Linked DNA regions of Homo sapiens. The protein of the gene in region 2 purifies or fractionates together with the protein of the main gene of each other region. This does not show direct contact. Each region holds a gene or a part of one and is shown on either strand. Other genes may lie near its edges.

Evidence for each region.
Region 1: the proteins of HLX (region 2) and SLC25A31 purify together in Homo sapiens (affinity purification with mass spectrometry; one large-scale study listed by BioGRID and IntAct). This does not show direct contact.
Region 3: the proteins of HLX (region 2) and TLE2 purify together in Homo sapiens (affinity purification with mass spectrometry; 2 studies listed by BioGRID and IntAct, with this or other methods). This does not show direct contact.

What each region holds. Positions count from the first base shown.
Region 1 is NC_000004.12:127,764,762-127,768,413, forward strand, and holds part of SLC25A31 (ADP/ATP translocase 4), read left to right. Parts: intron 1-2,304; coding exon 2,305-2,459; intron 2,460-3,652. UniProt on the Homo sapiens protein: ADP:ATP antiporter that mediates import of ADP into the mitochondrial matrix for ATP synthesis, and export of ATP out to fuel the cell.
Region 2 is NC_000001.11:220,882,297-220,885,565, forward strand, and holds the end of HLX (H2.0-like homeobox protein), read left to right. Parts: coding exon 1-52; intron 53-1,898; coding exon 1,899-2,408; 3' UTR 2,409-2,763; downstream 2,764-3,269. UniProt on the Homo sapiens protein: Transcription factor required for TBX21/T-bet-dependent maturation of Th1 cells as well as maintenance of Th1-specific gene expression. Involved in embryogenesis and hematopoiesis.
Region 3 is NC_000019.10:3,005,197-3,008,848, reverse strand, and holds part of TLE2 (transducin-like enhancer protein 2), read left to right. Parts: intron 1-2,179; coding exon 2,180-2,429; intron 2,430-2,880; coding exon 2,881-3,128; intron 3,129-3,264; coding exon 3,265-3,412; intron 3,413-3,652.

The DNA.
Region 1 (3,652 bases), on a different chromosome or scaffold from region 2:
ACACCCTTGTTTTTTGGTAGAGTATATTCTTTGGTAACTTTTTGAGAAAGAGTGAAAAAAAATAAATTGAGCTCTTACATATCTTAAAAAAAGTGTTTGTCTTACCCTCTCAAAAAGGGTAAGACATATATGAAAGTCTGAGTTTAAAATTATTTTCCTTCACAATTACGAAAATATTACCCTGACTTCTAGTTTCTAATGTTGCTCTTAAGATACCAATTTGCTTACTCCGGATCCTTTAGTATATGTTTTTTCTTTTTAGTTTCTTTCTATCCCTGATGATCTTATATTTCACAATAAAATATCTTTATGTGAGTCTTTTTTCAGTGTTTGAGTGATTGCAGCGGTCACACAACTGGCCCCGTTAAATCTGGAGCCTTGTGTTCAGTTCTGTGGGTGGCAGCACAGTAAGTCATTTGGCTGCTCAGGGTGAGGTTGTGGATATTGAGCATCTCCCTGCTCCTTTGCTTTCATCCTGGAAGTAGTAGTTAGTTCCTCTAATTTCTAAGTCTTTCTGAGGTTATTGTGATCAAATGGCTTGCTTCCCAGCAGTATCTTCCTCTGTAAGAAAATAGGTTCAGCTTTTTCTGCTCTATTTGGTGAATTACCACTCCTCCCTATTCTCTCCATCTGGCAAAATTTTGTAGATTTCATTCTGTCATGTTCTCTTATTGGCCTATCTGGCTTTAAACCTGTTTTATTTCATTATTATTAATGTAACAGAGTTTCTTTAGGGTACAGAGATTCATTCAACAAATATTGAGTGCCTTCTGGAATACAGGGTGCCTGCAGATACAGGGCGTGTGTGAGTGTGTATATGCGTATATATATGCACACATATTCACACCCCACCCCCCATGTAAGACATAGAGCTCATGCCTCATGTACCTAAGAGTCTAGTGGAGGACACAAGTAATAATAAATGAATAAATGACTAAAATATATTGTCACTTAATGATAAATGCTAGGGAAAAAAGTTAGAAGAGAGTGATAGCAGTTTTAAATAAGTGATCAGAAAATGTCTCAGAAGGGGTGGCAGTTTGAGCAAAAATAAAAATGTGAGTTTCATCTATTTAACTGGAAGTTGAAAGTTTATTTTTATTAATAAGAGGGTAAAAATAACTCAATATTATCTTGCTTTAAGTTCCATAGTTTTGTTTTCTCTTTCAAATCAGGAAGATTTAGTTTATTTTTGGAAGATTACATTGTACATATATAATAGTTTTAAAATATTGTCAAGGAATTCTTGGTCAAGGGAAAAGAAAAATAAAACCAGAAAATACTGGAAAAATATGACCCCTTCATATGAAATGTTAACTATCTTAAACTATCCTTACTAGTTTTTAGCTTTATCTTTTTGCTTTTCAACAGTCCTGGAGTTTTTTTATTTGTTTTTTTTTTTGTTTTTTGTTTTTGTTTTTGTTTTGAGACAGTCTTTCTCTGTCACCCAGGCTGGAGTACAGTGGCATGATCTCAGCTCACTGCAGCCTCCACCTCCCAGGTTCAAGCAGTTCTCCTGCCTCAGCCTCCTGGGTAGCTGGGATTACAGGCGACCACCACGACGCCTGGCTAATTTTTGTATTTTTAATCGAGACAGGGTTTCACTATCTTGCCCAGGCTGGTCTTGAACTCCTGACCTCGTGATCCACCCACCTCAGCCTCCCAAAGTGCTGGGATTACAGGCATGAGGCACTGTGCCCTGCCAATTTTTCCTTTCTAAGTGTTTCTTTGTTTTGTTTTGTTTTGTTTTAATAGAGACAGGGTCTTACTCTGTTGCCTAGGCTGGAGTACGGTGGCACAATCATAGCTCAGTGAAACCTCCAACTCCTAGTCTCAAGTGATCTACCTGCCTCAGCCTCCTGGCTAATTTTTTTTATTTTTTGTAGTGGCAGGGTCTCACTGTGTTGCCCAGGCTGGTCTCGAACTCCTGGCCTCAAGCAGTCCTTCTGCCTTGGCCTCGCAAAGCACTGGAATTACAGGCATGAACCATCTCACCTGGCCTGTTTCAAATTATTTTCTGAACCTCAATTAGTAACTTCTGGTAACTTTAATAAAATACTTTAAGGCAGGTTGTTTGAAGTAAATTGTTTTCATGAGAGATTAATATTTTCCATTTATTTCTTTTGAGATAGTACTTGAAATCTTGATTATCTGTAAAAGAATGGGAGGATTTTGATTTGTGCCTTCTTTGTTAGATTTGTAAGTGGGAATTTCAGATCATTTAGATCTGTAAAGGTTTATTTTGATTAAAGTGTTTATTGGATATATAATGTTGCTAATAGATTTTAAATGGCTTTATTTTAGGTCCTGAGGAGCGACAATTCAAGGGTTTAGGTGACTGTATTATGAAAATAGCAAAATCAGATGGAATTGCTGGTTTATACCAAGGGTTTGGTGTTTCAGTACAGGGCATCATTGTGTACCGAGCCTCTTATTTTGGAGCTTATGACACAGTTAAGGTAATCTGGGGGCTTTAACTTGGACATATTAAATATATGGTTTCCATTTATTTAATTAGTAATGTTTTCAGCAGATATGTTACTTTTAATTATAAAAATAAAAATCAGTGATGAAAAAAGAGAGACATGAAATTCTGCTTAATCATGATTTTGCCATAACCTAATTAAATTATAACTGCAGTATGGATCTGACTTTAGTTATAAAGCATGTATCTAAGTTTTTGAGGTGTTTTCACTGTACATCACATTGCAAATGAAAAACACGCTAATTAAGCTTACATCATAATCAAATCATTGGTATATGGAAAGGCATCTTCTAACAGTTTTTCTGATTTTATGTTAACCCTATTATCACTTTTTTATATTCAAATAATAAAATGTCATTTTGAGAAGGAGACAAAGCAAAATTAATTAAATAAATGCTACTGTAGCTTGGTTATCTACCGGATACTGTTAGATTCTGTGTTGTATTCTCCAGGTTGTTCTGCAATTTACCTTTTCATTTCAGATTTTAAGAACACTTCCATGTGGTAGGAAAAAGAAAAATTGTAACAATGGCTACCAATTTTTAGCTATTACCTAGTTCTAGGAAACTTTTTAAAGTACTTTACATCTTGAATCTCAGAAATCACTGGTAAAGAACTTACCCATGTAACCAAAACACTACCTGTTCCCCAAAAAACCTATTGAAATAAAAAGTAATAAGAAAATAAAGATAATTGTAGTTGTTTAAAATAAATAATAAAAAAATAAAATCCCCCCTTTGTTTAAAGATAAATAGCCTAGGAATTGTTAAGTAAATAGCCTAGGAATGGTTAAGTAATTTACTTGTTAAAGGCAAGCAAAAAAAAATCCATGTTCTTAATGACTACATTATAATGCTTCCAAAAGGAAGCAATGAAATTAATATCAGTATTATTTATTAGTATAATAAATAATTATACTATACTCCTTCATTAGTATAAATGTAGTTGCATGGCATTTTTATTGTTGTCTGGACAGATCAGTTTTTAGTGTATTTTTTAGACTGCTATGTTAATGAAAATTACAGGATCTTGTACATTTATTTAATCACAAAAAAAGTTATGTGTGTACTCTGTCTCTAGTTTGTTATCACCTGCAGTAGTTATGAAATTTAGGAACATTTCTCCACTAGTTTTAAAGCTGCCCATCAAATATGTGTTGATGATAAA
Region 2 (3,269 bases):
CAAGCCGGACCGAAAGCAGCTGGCGGCGATGCTGGGCCTCACGGACGCACAGGTAAGGCAGTTCTGGCTCCAGCGCACAGCGCCCTCGGGCGGGCAGCAGCGCACGGCCTAGTCTGGTAGGTCCCCTCCATCCCGGCCGACTGGCCTCCTGCGGTGCAAACGCAAGATCTTGACTTTCAAGAGGCTTTGTGGACTACGCAACTTGAGGCAGGAGAAGAGGAGGGTGGAGATGGGGTGAGGGAGAAGGACCGAGAGAAGAGCTCATCCCCAAGATGTGTGTCAACAAGCACTGCATGTTTATTTTGGCCAACAGGCTAAAGAACCACGGAGAAAGCAAAAGGGCCGCTGGAAATAACACTGATACACTCAACTGTAGTGCAATTCGCTGTAGGAGGCAGTTTATTTCAGAAAAGATAAAAACCCAAAGGCAAGAGATTGTTGTTGGGTTTTTTTCCCTCTCACCCTCCCTCCTTCCTCCTCCTCCTGCTGCTTCTGCTGGATTGTGAAATCCCCAGTTGTGAGGAAGTGAAAATATAATTTCAAACGGAATTAGTTAGCTCCAGGAGGGCAGGGAGTCTGCTTGGAGTGGCCACACATTACAAGGCTTAGGCTCTGAAGAAAATCTGAAGGAAGGGGAGAGGTGAGGGAAAGAAAGAAAGAAAAATGATTCTCTTAGAATACCCAAGAGCATTTCAGCAGGTTCTGCCTATTTGAATTTTTTCAAGACAATAGGAAATGTATTGTGGCTGAAATAATTTTATTCTTTTTCTTAAATTTAAGAACTGGGCTTCCCCACCCCCCACCACCCGAGCTTTGACTGTGGAAGAGTCACTCTTGTGCACCCCATAGCACTGGCTCTGGCTCTGGGGTGCTGATTTTCCCCAGCAGGTCAGAAGCCAGAGGCAGGCTTCTTTTTCTTAGCTCCTTGGTCCCCAAATTGCTGTCTCTGTTTCTTTCTGACCTCCATTACACAACTCTTCTCCCCAGTACACACACACACACACACACACACACACACACACACACACACACACACGAGGAGCCCAGCCGTTTTCCACCAGCTGTGGATGTTATTTTTAAAAGGGAAGCTGGAACTTGTGTGAATGCGTTGGGTCCCCCAGGGGATCGTATATATCTGTATAGATTCTCTGCCCCATCTCTATCCCCTTCCTTAATTTTGCACACATTTAATTCCATTGTTTTCTGAGCCCCCAGGAGAATTTGTTTATCCTTAACAGGGGCAAGGTCCTTATCAGCTCTTGCGTACAAACACACCAAAGAAATGCTGTCTTACTGAAAGCCCAACAATGCCCCCACCCTACTGTGATTAACAGTTTAAAACCCCTTTCCCTTTCTGCTTCCCATGTTTCCTTTTTTGAAAAAAGTATTGCTTTGGGTAGTGGCAGTAGAGGAGAGGGCCAACTTAGAGCAGGAATTCTTAACACTGGCACACCAAACCCTTGACATTGTAAGCAATATCTTGGGCATATGTGTATTTTTCTGGGCTAGGAGTCCATAACTTTAATCAGATTCTCATGGGGGTCCTGGCATAAAAAAATTACATGGATTTAGAGTAGAGAGAGAGTATGTTGGGGGTCGGGTGCAGGAATCTGCCTTTCCAACAGTCACTCAGGTCATTTTAGTCCTGGGGCCTGAGGGTTGCATTTTGAAAACGGTCTTAGTGGGTTCCCTAGGCCAGGATTCCTGGCTTCTTGTGTTCCCCTGGGCTGCCCCTTGGCTCCTGCGCCTACCACAGTGTCTGGTCCTTGGTAGAGTCGCCAAGTAAGCGTTGCTTTTTCACTCAGGGAGGTGGCTTGAGGGTGCACGCGAGTCGGATAGGAGCAAACCTGGGTCTCATCTCGGTGTCTCTTCTTGTCTCCCGGTGTGGCGCGGCGCAGGTGAAGGTGTGGTTCCAGAACCGGCGGATGAAGTGGCGGCACTCCAAGGAGGCCCAGGCCCAAAAGGACAAGGACAAGGAGGCTGGCGAGAAGCCATCAGGTGGAGCCCCGGCTGCGGATGGCGAGCAGGACGAGAGGAGCCCCAGCCGTTCTGAAGGCGAGGCTGAGAGCGAGAGCAGCGACTCCGAGTCCCTGGACATGGCCCCCAGCGACACGGAGCGGACTGAGGGGAGTGAGCGTTCTCTGCACCAAACAACAGTTATTAAGGCCCCGGTCACTGGCGCCCTCATTACCGCCAGCAGTGCTGGGAGTGGTGGGAGCAGCGGCGGCGGCGGCAATAGTTTCAGCTTCAGCAGCGCCAGCAGTCTTAGTAGCAGCAGCACCAGTGCGGGTTGCGCCAGCAGCCTTGGCGGCGGCGGCGCCTCGGAGCTTCTCCCTGCAACACAGCCCACAGCCAGCAGCGCTCCCAAAAGCCCCGAGCCAGCCCAAGGCGCGCTTGGCTGCTTATAGACTGTACTAGGGCGGAGGGGATCCGGGCCTTGCGTGCAGCCTCCCAACCATGGGCTGGGTTTTGTGCTTACTGTATGTTGGCGACTTGGTAGGGCAGGAGACGCAGCGTGGAGCCTACCTCCCGACATTCACGCTTCGCCCCACGCTGCTCCGACTGGCTGCAGCGGACACTGCCCAAAGCAGAGGGGAGTCTCAGTGTCCTGCTAGCCAGCCGAACACTTCTCTCCGGAAGCAGGCTGGTTCGACTGTGAGGTGTTTGACTAAACTGTTTCTCTGACTCGCCCCAGAGGTCGTGGCTCAAAGGCACTTAGGACGCCTTAAATTTGTAAATAAAATGTTTACTACGGTTTGTAAAGGCCGCTTGGCTTTGCTGGGGGTTGTTAAGGCCAGAGATCTACAACCGGACCTTAGTCCCGGGGACACTGTAGAATGCAGCAGCTGAAGGTGGTGGGGCTGGAGTTTCAGGGGAAGTGGCTCAACCTCAGAGCCATCTTGTTACAGACATCAGAGATGGGCGTCTGGGTTTAGAGGCTTCTAATTAAGAGATTTCTAGCGCCAACTGCCACTGAAAGTGCCCTCTGAGACCCTGAGTAGCCTGAGAGTGGAGCAGGCCATAGAAACTGTTAGGCCAGTGCAACAGATGGTTTCCCCATTCACAGTATGGACGAAATGAGTTCCTAGAGTACTCAGAGTTGGAATGGGGAAGGCAGTGATGCCAGGCGGGGTCAATCTAGGCACAGCTGTAATCACTATGTGGACGCGAAGCGCGGGCCCAGAGCCCTGCACAAACTTTTCCTTGTTCCGGGATGGGGTAGAGGACAGGTTTGCAATGTTGCTGAGGAAAGGACAGACATGACACAG
Region 3 (3,652 bases), on a different chromosome or scaffold from region 2:
CCCTGCCTGGGGTCCCGGGCCAGCCCCCCACCTCCTCTGAGGTCTTACCCTCTGTGGTTGGGGTCTCCCTGCTTCCCTTCTAGAAAGTCTCTTGTGTGGGCCGGGCACAGTGGTTCACTCCTGTAATCCCAGCACTTTGGAAGGCTGAGGCAGGTGGATCACTTTAGGTCAGGAATTTAAGACCAGCCTGGCCAACATGGCAAAACCATGTCTCTGCTAAAAATACAAAAATTAGCCGGACGTGGTGGCGGGCACCTGTAATCCCAGCTACTCGGGAGGCTGAGGCAGGAGAATCACTTGAACCTGGGAGGTGGAGGTTGCAGTGAGCTGAGACCGTGCCATTGCACTCCAGCCTGGGCAATAGAGCGAGACTCAGTCTCAAAAAAAAAAAAAGAAAAAAGAAAAAAAGTCTCTTGCATAAGCTACTCAGAGTTCCACTGGCTCTCCATAGAAGTAGACTCTGACCCCCCAGGGGACACTGGGCGATGTCGGGGGACACGTGTGGTTGTCACAGCTGGGGGAGGAGACGTTCCTGGCCTGGAGTGTGGAGGCCAGGGATGCTGCTTAGCATCCTGCATTGTCCAGGATGGCTCCACCAGAGGAGATCTGGCCACAGTGTCCACAGAGCTTTCTGCAGTGATGGAAGTGTTCTAGACCCACTGCTGGCCAACCCAGTCGCCACCAGCTGGGCGTGGCTTTCAGTACTTGAAATGTGGTCAGTGCAACTGAGGAGCTGAAAAGTTTTGTTTTGTTTTGTTTTGTTTTCTGAGACTGAGTTTCGCTCTGTCCCCCAGGCTGGAGTACGGTGGTGAGATCTGAGCTCACTGCAACCTCCACCTCCTGGGTTCAAGCGATTCTCCTGCTCCAGCCTCCTGAGTAGCTGGGATTACAGGCACGGACCACCGCCGGCTAATTTTTGTATTTTTAGTAGAGACAGGGTTTCACCATGTTGGCCAGGCTGGTTTTGAACTCCTGACCTCAAATGATCCACCCACCTTGGCCTCTCGAAGTGCTGGGATTCCAGGTGTGAGCCACTGTGCCGGCCTGAAAATGTTTATTTAATTTCAGTTCATTTAAGTGTTTTAACTGGTCACAGGTGGCCGGGGCTCCTAGGACAGACCCTCTAGCTGGTCTGGAACACTCAAGGTTTCTTTGTGGGTCCTCGGTTGAACGAACATTTATTAAGTGCTTGTTTACCATGCGCCACACCACAACCTAGACTCCCTGTGTATTTGTGCCACCCACTGACTGTCCCATATCACCTTTGACCACATTGTCCTGCCTTTTTCCTAAATCAGAGGCCGAGCACCATGGCTCACTCCTGTAATCCCAGTGCTTTGGGAGGCCAAGGCGGGAGGATCACTTGAAACCAGGAGTTTGAGGCCAGCCTGGGCAACATAGCAAGACCTCATCTCTACAAAATAATAACAGAGAAAATTACTTTAAAAAATGCATCAGAGGCTGGGCCCGGTGGCTCATGCCTGTAATCCCAGCATTTTGGGAGGCCGAGGTGGGAGGATCATTTGAAGTCAGGAGTTTGAGACCAGCCTGAGCAACATGGTGAAAGCCCATCTCTACTAAAAATACAAAAAAATTAGCCAGGCGTGGTGGCCTGCACCTGTAATCCCAGCTCCTTGGGAGGCTGAGGCAGGAGAATCACTTGAACCCCGGAAGCAGAGTTTGCAGTGAGTCCAGATCACGCTACTGCCCTCCAGCCTGGGTGACAGAGCGAGACTCCATCTCAAAAAAGAAACAAACGCATCAGGCTGGGCATGGTGGCTCACGCCTGTAATTCTAGCACTTCGGGAGGCCGAGGCGGGCAGATCACTTGAGGTTAGGAGTTCAAAACCAGCCTGGCCAACATGGTGAAACCCTGTCTCTATTAAAAATACAAAAAACTTAGCCAGGCATGGTGGCGCATGCCTGTAATCCCAGCTACTCGGGAGGTTGAGGCAAGAGAATCGCTTGAACCCAGGAGGCAGAGGTTGCAGTGAGCTGAGATCGGGCCACTGCACTCCAGCCTGGGCGACACGGCGAGACTCCCTCTCAAAAAACAAAACAAAAAATAAAAAACACATCAGAGGGTGCCAGGCAGGACAAAGGCGTCTCCCTGCCCTCCCAGGTGCGGGTGCGGGGGCGTGGTGCCCAGGGCTGGGTCATGCCCCGGCTTTCTCTCCAGGGCCTACTCCTTCCACGTGTCTGCGGACGGGCAGATGCAGCCGGTTCCCTTCCCCTCGGATGCACTGGTAGGCGCGGGCATCCCGCGGCACGCCCGGCAGCTGCACACGCTGGCCCATGGCGAGGTGGTCTGCGCGGTCACCATCAGCGGCTCCACACAGCATGTGTACACGGGCGGCAAGGGCTGTGTGAAGGTGTGGGACGTGGGCCAGCCTGGGGCCAAGACGCCCGTGGCCCAGCTCGACTGCCTGGTGAGGGCGGGGTGGGACAGTGGGCGGGACTCACAGGTGAGGGGTGGGGCTTATGTTCCAATGGGGCGGTGTTCGCAGGCTGGCCGTGGGTGGGGCTACAGGTGAAGGGCGGGGCTTATAGGTGAGGGGCGGAGCTCGTAGTCGCATGGGACAAGGCTTGCAGGCCAAAGGGGTGGGGCTCTGGCCAATCTGAATTGGACTTGCAAGACAATCAGGACAGGGTTTGCAGGCCAACCATGGGTGGGGCTTATAGGTAAAGGATGGAGCTTATAGTCAGATGGGGCAGTGTTTGCAGGTCAAAGGGGCGGGGCTCACCAGCCAATCAGGGTAGGGCTTGCAGGCTAATCAGGATGAGGCTACATTGGGCTCCAGAGACCCCCACGTTGAGCTAGGCTCCTAGAGACCTCACCTGGGACCAACCCCCAGCCCCTGCTTCTCTCCCCGACCCCAGAACCGAGACAACTACATTCGTTCCTGCAAGTTGCTGCCGGATGGCCGGAGTCTGATCGTGGGCGGTGAGGCCAGCACCTTGTCCATTTGGGACCTGGCGGCGCCCACCCCCCGTATCAAGGCCGAGCTGACTTCCTCAGCCCCAGCCTGCTACGCCCTGGCCGTCAGCCCCGACGCCAAGGTTTGCTTCTCCTGCTGCAGCGATGGCAACATTGTGGTCTGGGACCTGCAGAATCAGACTATGGTCAGGTGGGTGGCAGGTGCGCTGGGACCTTGGGCAAGCCCCCGGCCGCTCTCGGTGCAGGGGGAGTGGAGGAGTGTGACCTGGGACGATGCTGGGGCAGCTCGAATTCCAGGATGGACGCCTGGGCCCTTCTCCCTCCAGGCAGTTCCAGGGCCACACGGACGGCGCCAGCTGCATTGATATTTCCGATTACGGCACTCGGCTCTGGACAGGGGGCCTGGACAACACGGTGCGCTGCTGGGACCTGCGGGAGGGCCGCCAGCTGCAGCAGCATGACTTCAGCTCCCAGGTGCTGTTCGGTTCTGGCAGGAGGGGGATGGAAGCTCTAGGAATACAGCATCCCTTCCTCTCCTTGTGAGGTGCCCACTTCCAGAGGCAGGACAGGACAGGACTCCCATCTGCTGTGGTGTCCATCTTTCTTGTCCCCCAGACACATCCACAGGCTTCCCCTGTAACTCTCTAAAGATGTAGGGGAACACAAAAGAGCTGATTCATAGGAAGCTGTGGGGCTACTGAGACCCCCAGATCA